Homo sapiens: one gene and its partner. The protein of the gene in region 2 interacts with the protein of the main gene of each other region in a pairwise test. Each region holds a gene or a part of one and is shown on either strand. Other genes may lie near its edges.

The links.
Region 1: the proteins of RFC2 (region 2) and RFC1 interact in binary tests that used the Homo sapiens proteins (3 or more experiments, as listed by UniProt).

Annotation. Positions count from the first base shown.
Region 1 is NC_000004.12:39,286,916-39,293,387, forward strand, and holds the end of RFC1 (replication factor C subunit 1), read right to left. Parts: intron 4,938-6,472; coding exon 4,724-4,937; intron 3,125-4,723; coding exon 2,933-3,124; intron 1,930-2,932; coding exon 1,846-1,929; 3' UTR 541-1,845; downstream 1-540. UniProt on the Homo sapiens protein: Subunit of the replication factor C (RFC) complex which acts during elongation of primed DNA templates by DNA polymerases delta and epsilon, and is necessary for ATP-dependent loading of proliferating cell nuclear antigen (PCNA) onto primed DNA.
Region 2 is NC_000007.14:74,231,002-74,237,464, forward strand, and holds the end of RFC2 (replication factor C subunit 2), read right to left. Parts: intron 6,442-6,463; coding exon 6,361-6,441; exon of another isoform or gene 6,355-6,360; intron 4,645-6,354; coding exon 4,531-4,644; intron 1,216-4,530; coding exon 1,105-1,215; 3' UTR 501-1,104; downstream 1-500.

The DNA of each region.
Region 1 (6,472 bases), on a different chromosome or scaffold from region 2:
TGCTGCAAAGATGGCATGTGCCATCAAGTGGCTCCAAAAGGCCACATCATCGGTGGCTCCAATGAAGACTCAACCCCAATACAGACCATTCAGATTCACATCCAAACTGCTGCAGAACCACCAACTGCCTCCTACCATGAATCTCACTCATTCACCTCATGGTCACGAGGGCTTCAAAGAGGAATCAGACCTATGCCATCCTCATAAAGGGCATATTTACAATTTCTAATTCTAAAAGAAATGCTATTAATTTTACACACATATTATCCCAATCTTGGGTTTAAAACATTTAAAATTACAAACAAAATCATAATGAACAAGTGAAGGACACTATGCCGCATCCTGGCTGCATGGAGATTCAAGTCTCTCTCCTGGGGGCTGCAGAAGACCTAGGGAGACGTGACTTGCATATCCAAAAGGCATAGAAATGGAAGAACATGAATAGGAAAGCCAGCCTCACCCTACTGGTGAGAAAACCTTTCCTGAAGCATAAGAATTTCAAGATGGACTTTAACAAAGACAGGGTCGTGACTCAGCAGGCAAGGGCTTAGGCAATGTTTTATTTCCATAATGAATTAATCTCCATAAATGACATTTTTCACACTGGTAAATACAGTTTAAATGTCTCAAGAACTTTGTCTCATCACCCAAACAAGACTACCAGTTCCTTAAAGCAGGGAATACGATCCTTATTTTACATTCATTTTAGTATATACCTCACAGAGGTAGCACAGACCTCTGAGCATTTACCAACAAGATTAAAAAATAGCTAGACATCTAAATTCCAGGCTAGGTCCATAGCCTCACGGCCACTCAACACATACAGTTATAGGAATAACCCAAACTTCCAACAGGGTTTGTGGAAGCCATCACAGGACAGGACTAGATCTCTCAGGGGCAAAGTGAACAAAAGCCAGTGTTCATTTTGTCCCCCACCATAGTGAAATTAAGAGCCTGACCCAGCCTGGTTCCTACTGGTCTGAACCTGATGGGTTGAGACTCCAGAAGGATAAGAATGTCTGAGAATCTTCTGCAGCCCCCCACGCTGCAAAGCCCCATAACAGACCACTGCATGAAATCCTATTCACAGCAGAGACGTGGTCAACACACACAGAGGGAGTGAGGCTGGGAATCCGAGTTCTGACTCCTCGACTGCCAATGTTATGTTTCACACAACAGGTTAGTAAGGAATACAGTGAGCTTTTTTAATCCAATCATTTGCAAATTAATAAGGAAGTAATATACCAACATAATATTTTGCTGTACAAGATGACAATCTTAAAAAGAATTTGTACACATATCATGTGGAACATTTTTATTCCTAATTTATACTTTGAAAGATATCTGACAATGTACAAAGAATACCCAGTTCTAGGTGGTGACTGTTTTGTATAATCATTTATTTACAAAATTTCACCACATAATAGGAACTGCCTTTAAAAAAAATCAGCATTGGTCCTATAAAGGCCATTAGGATAAATTCTTAAGCCTACAAAAGACGCCTTAGTACTACTGCTCCCAGGCTCATTATTGTTAACTAAAATCTGACTCCAAAGCCCAGGTGTAGTTTCTAGTTCCAATTCTACAGTCATTCAGAAGCACGTCTAACTAGATTGACAGAGGACAGTGGAGGACCCAAGCAGTCCTATCAACCTCTATAAGAGGTGTACATAAGCCTACTGCTCATACCCTTCTAGCCATACCACCCTTTATTTATAATGGGACACCAGGTCATCCCATTATGCTAAAACATGGTTGCTCTGGGAAAAAACAAGGCTTTCTCTAGACCAGCTGGACTGGTCAGGAGGGAGAGTAAAAAGTGGCTGTCGCTAGTGAAAAATGGTTTCATTTCTTCGAACTTTTTCCTTTTCCTTTTCTGGGCTCCTTATCTTTTTCTGGTTTTGAAGGCTTTGAAGATTTTGTCTTTTTCTGTTAGGGGGAAGATAACAAAATAGTTAATAGCTGTGTTTATGAGTAAATGAAATAAGTTCATCTCTATAACAAATCTAATCTTTACCTGCAACTTAATTAAAAAAGAAGAGAGGCTGCAAACATCGAGATCTTGAACTACTGCAACCCATGAAGCGCTTACAGCAACAACTGCGCCACTTACAGCCTTTAAAAGCTGGCAGTAAAAACTTTTAGTTTAGAATTTAGAACTAGGATCCGTTCCCCATGTAAGACAGTTTCTTGGATTTAGAACAGAGGTATACTTAGGAAAGACAAAATAAGCAAGAGGTAATTGACAAATAGGGTAATGTTTAGATGAAGAATTTCCTCTTCTTTCAGTTTCAGATTAGAGGTGTAAACAGTCATTTTGTGAAAGCAGAAGAGAGGGAGAGAGGAAGACCACCTGTTAGGGTCGACATGGGAGCCACAGTGAAGAAGGCCACTATTCCTACTCCTGCATACAGAAAACAGAAATGAAGGGCAAGAAGCACCCACACCCAGCGAAGGACAGAGGAGGATCAGATGAGGTTCCTTGGCTCAGCCAGCTGTACACAGCAGGCTGATACCACAATTGGTTTTCATATTTCCCATCAAAAGACAAGAATGTTTTGCTCTAAGAAACTTCTACAAAGCAGTTTAGTGGCTATAGCAAAACATAAGCAACAGAAGAAACTGTTTTGTTACAAACATTTTTCTTGAAAGCATACACCAATGGCTAGATAAATAAAAATGGTACTTTTTCTAACAGAACATATGGCCGTCAATATCATGGCCTGTTTTCTTGCTGTTTGGCTCTTCGACTACCATAAGAAACTTTATAAAAATGAAATCTCTACCTTCTCCACCCTCAACCATGATGAACAAAAAAACTTAAGAAGTATTTTCAAGTTATTCTGCTATGTGCTGAAAAGGCCCTATTATTCACCAGGCAAGGAAAGATCATCTATTTTGAGGTTCTCCTGTCTGTGGCTTAAAATACTACCTTGATCATGGCATCAGTTTCTATAGCATCTTGGTCTTTCTCATCAGATTGAGAGTCATCTTCATTTAATTCTTCATTGTATTCCGAATCCAGGGATGGGCTTGTGCTGTGTCTAGATGCCTTTATAGCTTGAAGTGAGTATGGAGTAAGGTGGGCTTCCTTATTGTAAGCTCTTGTGAAGGCTGCTTTCACCTATATGAAAGGAGTAGATGGAGTTTTTAAAAATCTAAGTCCCAAACAATTCTTTTAAACTCTGTAAGCCTAAAGAGACCCTGGGAGCCCCCTGCAACTGTTTGCAAAGTATTTATGTATATACATGTAAATCTAAGTACGTGCATTTTTCTGTGGATAAGTTCCATATTTTTCATAACATTCTTAATAGAGCCCATGACAAAAAAGACTGAAGGTGGGGCACAGTGGCTCATGCTTCTCCATGAGAATCTTGAACCCAGGAGGTGGAGGTTGCAGTGAGCTGAGATTGCGCCACTGCACTCCAGGCTGGGTAACAGAGTGAGATTCTGTCTAAAAAAAAAAAAAATACGTATATATATATTTGGGAACTTTAGGCAAACAAACAAACAAAAGGTCACTTCAAGTCATCATGTTTACCTATTCAGCATTCTCCACATTTCTACAAAGTAGTAAGCAAAGTTAATCAGTGAATCAGTAAATCAAAAAGGGGCTCGGCTGGGTGTGGTGGCTCACGCCTGTAATCCCAGCACTTTGGGAGGCCAAAGCAGGCAGTTCACATGAGGCCAGGAGTTTGAGACCAGCCTGGCCAACATAGGGAAACCCCATTTCTACTAAAAATACAAAACTTAGCCAGGCGTGATGGAGTGCACCTGTAATCCCAGCTACTTGGGAGGCTGAGGCATGAGAATGGCTTGAACCCGGGAGGCAGAGGTTGCAGTGAGCCGAGATCGCACCACTGCCCTTCAGCCTGGGCAACAGAGCTAGACTGTCTCAAAAAAAAAAAAAAAGGTTGGGGGAGCTCATCACAAGATATAAGTTGGCCTTTAATTTCCACAAAACACTAGATACCTTTTCCATAATAAGAGTAGTTACTTCAAAATACTAAGTAACTTGAAAGTCTTACCTTCAAGCTTCTAAACATAATTCCTGAATTAGTCCATGAATTCTAACAATGGATGTCTGCTGTGAGAATTTACTGATAACCATAAAGTCGGGTCAAAATTCTGGGGAGGGCAAACTACAGAGAATATGTCTTCTAAAACGCATTCATTACACAGGTGCAAGAGTTGGGTATTGGATGTTACATATTCATGATGTATCACTTTAGTTTTTTTCGTCTCATTATAAGAAAAGTGGGGATACATTATTACAGAGAAGATTATCCAACTGGAATAAATACTGAATCCACAGATTAGGTAGACTAAGAAAAAGAAAATTTGTACAAATCCTCAGCCAATAAACATATTTTATTTTTACAACCCATTACCACCAGAGCTCACCGCTCAACTTTTAATTCCCTAGACTCATCCACTCATCCTTTATAAAGAATATATTTATATTTGCTCCTCAAATTTCACTTCTTGCTTTTCCACTGAGCATAAAGCAAAGATAAAAATACAAATTGTAAAGTCAAGCCCAGAAGTCTACTCTTAATACTGCATTCAAATAGTATCTTTGGAAAATATAGGCCATAAGAAGCAACAAGCATTTGAGGGGAAAAAGAAGTAAATCTTAAAGCATCTAAAACACCTCCGAAGTATTGTCAGTACAAACCTGGTAATAGAAAGTGACGAAGAACCAGTGAGTGACATGATTTACCTTGGGATCCAGCTTTGAAAAGGGACTAGGTTTGCCACCCCAGCTGCTGATTTCCATGATATTCTCAAAGTCTTCTTTCATCAAATAATATGTGTCCATAAGTGCAACAACATCCTGTACTCCGTCTACTCCTTGTGAGGTCAAGGGCTGTACAAGTGCATCCCTTAGAAGCGACAGATAATCCATGTTTACAGTCCTTTTGCTGGAGTAAGTTCTGAAACCACAACAAAAGAGACATAGTCAACAGCAAAGTATCAACTCAAGTCATACTGTGCATAACAGCACTGAGTTAATCAGGCAGAGTTCAATCCAATTTCAATAATGCTGAATGGAATGCCTACTATTTGACAGCCAGCTGGTGTAGTTTAGAAAGCCCAGCACCACAGCATGAGGGTAATGGGTACACATCAATGTGCCCAAAGGAAATTTTCTACTTACCTACATCAGTGACTGAAAAACATACGTGGATTCTACTTCCACCCTACTCTTAAGGCCCAGGCAACAGAATGTTTCTTTGTGTTCATAAATATGACTCGTTCCAAGTTCCAAAATATTAAAAGCATCAGTATAAGGCAATGAAATTCCCTATCTCAAGTGTGTGAATGTGTATAACACCTTTTGGTCCCTGATTATAACACACAAAATCATATATGAATGCTTCCCTCACATTTCCTAATACTGTTACTCTGAAATCGTCAGTTCTAGAGCCGGCTTTTCTCCAAATCTAAGAAAATTACAGAGTGTTCCCACAAAATCAAAAAGTGATCCACAGTGGCCAGAGGAAGGTTTAGGGAAACAGTCTCTGGTCTGCTGAGAACTCGAATGTTATCATAAAATGACTCTTTCTTTCTCTCTTAAATGTTGTCACTTCTTAAAGACAGAAAGCAACTGAACAAAACAATATTTCAAATGCCACCATCCTAAATCTTTCCAACCCAGCTGCCTCTATCTTCAAACCAGGCATTTATATGTATACATTATTTATTTATTTATTTATTTATTTATTTATTTATTTATTTAAAGACGAAGCCTCACTCTTGTTGCCCAGGCTGGTGTGCAGTGGTGCAGTCTTGGCTCACTGCAACCTCCACCTCCCGGGTTCAGGAGGTTCTCCTGACTTAGCCTCCCAAGTAGCTGGGATTACAGGCACCCGCCACCACACCCGGCTAATTTTTTTTTTTGTATTTTTAGTAGAGACAGGGTTTCACCATCTTGCCCAGGCTGGTCTCAAACTCCTAACAGGTGATCCACCCGCCTTGGCCTCCCAAAGTGGTGGGATTACAGACGTGAGCCACCGCACCCAGCCTGTATACGTAAAACTTCAAAAGTTGTTGTTATCAGAACCAGCATCAGAAGCAAAAAGAAATGATTCTTTACAAATTGTCTATGGGTCCTGCTCCTGCCTTCAAGGAACTGAATGTGTGAACCATAAGAAGCCACAGCTTTTTTCCTGATCAGAAATCTAGACTCACCCTCGCAACTATTACCTAGACAAAGAGTTTTTAAAACTCTCCTAGTTTAATTTCATCCATTTCCTCTAGATTGTCTTCCATAATTAAGCACGCTAGTACTTAAAGGAAGCAGTGTGAGTCCCTAAGCCACAGTACCCCCAGAAATCATGAAACCATTTCCAAAACTGTTCTACAATGTTTTACAGTATCATCATCTTCTAATAGACTCATAGAAAAGTCAAAGATGCCATTTAGTGCACCTAAACCAAGGGTTCTTAACCTCAGGAATCTGTAATTC
Region 2 (6,463 bases):
AGGATCACTTGAGCCCAAGAGGTTGAGGCTGCAGTGAGCCAAGATTGGCCCACTACACTCTAGCCTGGGCGACAGAGTGAGACCCAATCTCAAAAATCAAAACAAAACAAAAAGGGAAAAAAATAGTATCTTACCAAAAAAAAAAAAAAGGCAATTCTACAAATTAGTACGAAATTCTTTGGGGAATTCTAAAGCAAGCGCAAAGAGTATGGTCTAGAACACAGGAAGAGCATCACGGTGTTTTCCTGAGGGCTGGGCTGCATCTCTCCACTCTGCCGCCCTCTCTGAAAGGCTCGCCACCTGGCCATTCTGAGAAATCAGTCTAAATAGGAAAGACAGCAAACCCTGCCCTCGCCCTGGGGAAGTGGCGCCTTCAGGCTTCTAGAAGAACCGAGATGAGCTTGTGGGTCTACTATCTAATCGCCTTTTCTACTTGTAGGCTGCCAAGGCCCGTAGAGACAGGAAGCTGGTTTTTCTCGAGGCTTCACATGGTCACCTTATTGCCAACAAACACTGCAAGGCTTTATTAGCTAAAATGTCAACCCACACACAGATCAGAGACCGCCCTCAGCTTCTCTGCGCCTTTCCGCCCCGTCACCGCATCAATGGGGTGGAGGCCAAACTCAAACACTTGCGGGGCACAGACGTCCCAGAAGCAAACATGCAAGTCACGGGAGTTTATTTATTTAATTTTTTTCCCCAGATGGAGACTCTGTCGCCCAGGCTGGAGTGCAATGGTGTGATCTTGGCTCACTGCAACCTCCACCTCCTGGGTTCAAGCGATTCTCCTGCCACAGCCTCCCGAGTAGCTGGGATTACAGGTGCCCGCCACCACACCCAGCTAATTTTTATATTTTTAGTAAAGACAGGGTTTCCCCATGTTGGCCAGGCTGGTCTTGAACTTCTGACCTCAGGTGATCCACCTGCCTCGGCCTCCCAAAGTGTTGGGATTACAGGCGTGAGCTACCGTGCCTGGCCAGCCACTGGAGTTTAAAGGACAGTCATGTTGGCTCCAGCCTAAGGCGGCATTTTCCCCCATCAGAAAGCCGCGGCTCCTGTACCTCAGAATAGGGCACCTGTAAGTCAGTCAGTGAAGTCTCTGCTCTAACTGGCCACCGGGGCCATTGTCTTCTGACACAGCCTTGCCAGGAGGCCTGCCATCTGCAAAAGAGAGTTCACTCCTTCCGCTATTTTCATGTGAGTGTATCCAATTTCCTGAAAAACAAACCAAATTCAAATCTGGTTAATAAGTGGGGGAGTTCTTTTTTAAAATCTGAACTGAAAAAAATAAAAATAAAAACAGAAACAAACTGAACTAATGGTTTTTTCAAAATCAGCATGAGGAATTCCAACCCCAGCCGGAAAATGAATGCTAAGATGCAATGGATTATGTTTACCTAAAGTTCTATTTATTTCTTAAAAGGATGCTGATAGTTCTTTCAAAGAAACTGTTAAGAAAATGGGTGGGGCGAGGGGGGGCGGGGTGGTGGCACGGAAAGCCAGGCTAGAGGAAAATATTTATATATCTGATAAAGAACTTGCATCCAGACTGTATAAAGAATTCTCAAAAATTCAGTAATAAAGTCCAGGCGTGGTGGCTCATGCCTGTAATCCCAGTACTTTGGGAGGTCAAGGCAGGTGGATCACGAGCCCAGGAGTTCGAGATCAGCCTGACCAACATGGTAAAACCCCATCTCTACTAAAAATACAAAAATTAGCCAGGTATGGTGGCGCACGCCTGTAATCCCAGCTACTCGGGAGGCTGAGGCAGGAGAATCACTTAAACCTGGGAGGCGAAGGTTGCAGTGAGCTGAGATAGTGCCACTGCACTCCAGCCTGGGCAACAGAGCAAGACTCCATCTCAAAAATAAATAAGTAAATAAATTCAGTAATAAAAATCAAACAACCCAATTAAAAAATGGGTAGATTTAGACCTGGAGCAGTAGCTCACACCTGTAATCCCAGCATTCTGGGAGGCTGAGGCAGGAGGATCACTTGCCCAGAGTTGGGCCTGGGCAACATAGCAACACCCAAACTCTACGAAAAAAAGAAAATAAAAATGACCCAAGTGTAGTGGCACATGCCTGCAGTCCCAGCTACTCGGGAGCCTGAGGTGGGAGGATTGCTTGAGCATGGAAGGTTGAGGCTGCAGTGAACTATGATCGCACCACTGCACTCCAGCCTGGGTGACAGAGCAAGACCCTGTCTCTCAAAAACATAAAAAAGGTAGGCCAGGCGCAGTGGCTCACACCTGTAATTCTAGCACTTTGGGAGGCCGAGGCGGGAGGATCACTTGAGCCCGGGAGTTCAAGACCAGCCTTGGCAACACGGGGACACCCCGTCTCCACCAAAAATATAAAAATTGGCCGGTCTTAACATGATCTCTAAACAAAAAATACAGTACAATTAAAATAAAAAATGTAAAAATTTTAAAAAATGGGTATATATGAACAGATGTTTCATCAAAGAAGATTCTGGATGGCAAACGAGCACATGATTAAATGTTCAGCATAGTAATTAGGGAAATGCAAATTAAAGGCACAATGAGATCTCATCACATGCCTATTAGGTTATTTTGTTGTTGTTGTTATTGGTTTTTTTTTTTTTTTTTTTTTTAAGATGGAGTCTCACTCTTGTCGCCCAAGCTGTAGTGCAGGGGTGTGATCTCAGCTCACTGCAACCTCCACCTCCTGGGTTCAAGCGATCCTCCTCCCTCAGCCGCCCGAGTAGCTGGGATTACAGGTGTAAGCCACTGCATCCGGTCATTACACACCTATTAGAATGGCTTAAAAACCAAACTGAGCACTCCATGTGGTGGCTAGGTTGAGGATCCTCCGGAATGCTGGTGGGAATGCACGTGCTGCAGCCACTTCGGAAAACCGTTTGGCAGTTCCTTATCGAGTAAAACATACACTTATCATTTTCCCAGGCAATTTCACCCCTGGGAACTTACTTGGGAAAAAGAAAAACTTAACATTTGCATTCACACTAATCCATATATGCAAATGTTTACACTGGCTTTATTCACAGTCACCACAATCTGTAAACCCAAATGTCCTCCAGCTGATGGACAGATAAGCAAACTGTGGTACACGCACAGGATGGATTACTTCTCAGTGATAACACGGACTGACTCATGGATAGAAGTACCAGCGTGGACACATCTGAAAGGCATTTCTGCTACAGTGAAAGAAAGAAGCCAAACTCACAAGGCTAAGTTCTACATGATCCCATTTATATGATATTCTGGAAAACTGTATCCCATGAAACAGAAACTACATCGGTAGTTTCCAAGTGGTAGTCGGGGAGGGGGCTGGCTTCAAAGGGACACATGAGTTGTTCTGGGATGACAGATTCTGCATCCTGATGGTGATAGTGTTTGCATGACTGAGTGCGTTTGTCCTGTACCTAACAGGCTGAATTTTACTCTATGTAAATTAAACCTCAATTAATCTAACCTTGAAAAATCAATCAATCAGTCAATACACAAGAGAGCCTTGAATGAAGAAAATCAGAACTGTGTGAAACAAACTTGGTCCTCAGGACAATCAGCCACGTTGATCTAGTTTGGACGTCTGTCCCCTTCCAATCTCATTTGGAATTTGGTCCCCAATGTGGGGATGTTTGGGTCATGAGGAAGATCCCACGTGAATGGCTTGGTGCCCACCCCAAGGTAGTGAGTGAGTTCTGGATCAATTAGGTCCCTGGAGAGCTGGCTGTTCAAATGAGCCTGGCACCTCCCTCCGTTCTCAACAGGTGGTCTCTGCATGCACAGGCTCCCACTTCCCCTTCCAACATGAGCAGAAGCAGCCTGAACCCCTCCCTAGAAGCAGATGCTGGCATCATGCTACATGTACAGCCTGCAGAACTGTGAGCCAAATCAACCTCTTTTCTTTCTACATTACCCAGTCTCTGGTATTCCTTTATAGTAACTCAAAGGAACTAAGACACAGCCTCCCTCCCACTGCAGTTGGGAAACACTGAGCACCTTCTAGATGCCAGGCCTGTGAGCAGAGAAAGCGAAGCCAGGGCCCACAGTCTTTTTTTTTTGTTTTGAGACAGTCTCGCTCTGCTGCCCAGGCTGGAGTGCAGTGGTGCGATCTTGGCTCACTGCAACCTCCACCTCCCAGGTTCAAGCGATCCTCCTCCCTCAGCCTCCCAAGTAGCTGGGATTATAGGCGCTTGCCACCACACCCAGCTAAGTTTTGTATTTTTAGTAGAGATGGGGCTTTGCCATGTTGGCCAGGCTGGTCTCAAACTCCTGACCTCAGGTGATCCGCCCACCTCGGCCTCCCAAAGTGCTGGGATTACAGGCATGAGCCACCACGCCCAGCCATGCCCAGCTAATTTTTGTATTTTTAGTAGACAGAGGCTTTCACTACGTTGGCCAGGCTGGTCTCGAACTCCTGACCTCAGGTGATCTGCCCACCTCGGCCTCCCAAAGTGCTGGGATTACAGGTGTGGCCCACAGCACCCGGCCACTATGGGCCACATTCTTGAGGACAGAGGCATTTCTACATTCTCACCGACCTTGATAAACTCCAGTTTCAGGTATTCTGCCATTTGGAAAGTTTTACACACTCGAAAGATGTTGCCAATGATATCTTCTGGTGAGTAGCCCAGATGCCACAAGTGAGCAAGAATCTAGACAAAGGAGACAGAAAAGGCTGCTTACCACTTTAAACTGTAAGAAGACATGTGATTTTGAGACTCACCACAGCTGGTGGGGCCCACCCTTCAGGTCACATGGGGGTACCTTAACTGATTTTCATGGCAGATAGAGAGATAACATTGCAAATGTATTGTTGTTTTGCTTAAATATTTTTTTTTCAGTAATATAAAGATAAGAGTCTTGCTATATTGCCCAGGCTGGTCCCAAGTTCCCGGCCTCAAGCAATCCTCCTGCCTCGACCTCCAAAAGTGCTGGGATTACAGGCATGAGCCACTGAGCCCAGCCTATCGCAAATGTGTTAAGCTGTGTTGCAAAATGGTCTACTACCACACCCATGTAATCTCTTGATCCGGAGCTCTTAAAATGCTTTATTAATCTGATGACTAGGTATAGCAAAGTGGAAAAAGCAGACCATTCATCTGCTAGCTTCATCCAGCTGCAGTCCCAATGCAACCTCTGCAGGACGAGCCTGGAGCACACCCTGACTGGGTAATCCCAGCCTCCTGCTTCCCACCCACCCTGCCCCACCCAGGCTGCAGCGTCTGGAGGCAGGCCTTTTTGCCTTTGTTTTGGCATCTTGGGGTGAATTCAGGAGGCAGAGAAGCTCTGTGCCCACAAATCTGAAGGCTTTCTTCAGGTCTACTCAGGGACCCTGGGCCTGGGTCTCTGCTCAGTCTCCCCGCCTTGCACTCCGGTTTCACATTGGGTGGAACTATGCCCTAAACCCAGTCAACTTCCAACCTAGTTTGTTAGGGGGTAGGCAGAGGGAAACCATGACTGGATCAATGACCTTGAACCACACCAACCACACCACACCCATGTGGCTTGAGGTCGCCTGAACCCCAGCCACATCTGCTGGAATCTGCTCACAGCACTCAGTCCCATTGTGAGGCTAGAATCTTCCTGCTCCCTCCTCTCCTGGCTAGCTGGGGGCTGCTGGATCCCAGAATGCCTGTGCCTATGAGAATGGATGGGGACACTTCCCCTTAACTGGAGAGAAGATGGCTTCCCTGGAGAAGGAGCTAGGCTGGTCTTTCCTCCTGACTTTGGCTGACAAATTTCTCCTGCAGAGGATATAATTACAGGAGAAAAACACCATTTTGAATTCTAGTTCTACTGCTTTTAAACCATGACTTAGGGCTGGGCATAGTGACATGTGCCTGTAGTCCCAGCTACTTGGGAGGCTGAGGTGGGAGGATCGCCTGAGCCTGAGAGGTAGAGGCTACAGTGAGCTGTGACCGCGCCAGTGCATTCCGGCCTGGGCAACAGAGTAAGACCCTGTTTCTACATAAATAAATAAATAAATAAATAAACAAACACAGTGATTTAGGACAAGGAATTCAGCCTCTGAATCAGTTTTCTCATCAGTAAAGTGCACCCAACTCCTAGCATAATTTTTTTTTTCCAGTTCCTAGACAGATTAACACATAGCATGATATTAATAATTTTTTTTTTTTCCTGAGACAGGGTCTCACCATCACCCAGGCTGGGGTACAGTGGCGCAATCACAGCTCACTGCAGCCTTGACCTCCAAGGCTCAACAAATCCTCCTGCCTCAGTCTCCCAAGTAAGATTTCAAGAATGAATGGAGTGATGTGTATAATGTCCCTGGTACCAGAAGGGCTCCCGCTCTCCTCTGCCCAAGAAGTGAGCGGTTCCTCTGCCAGGACGGGGGGAAGGAGGCCAACCTTGTAGGCTTCGTCAATGTTGGCATTCACACAGTGCTGGATCATCTCCTTTACCAGCAGTGGGTGGGGCTCGTCACAGACCTGGCCAAAGGGAAAGGAAAGG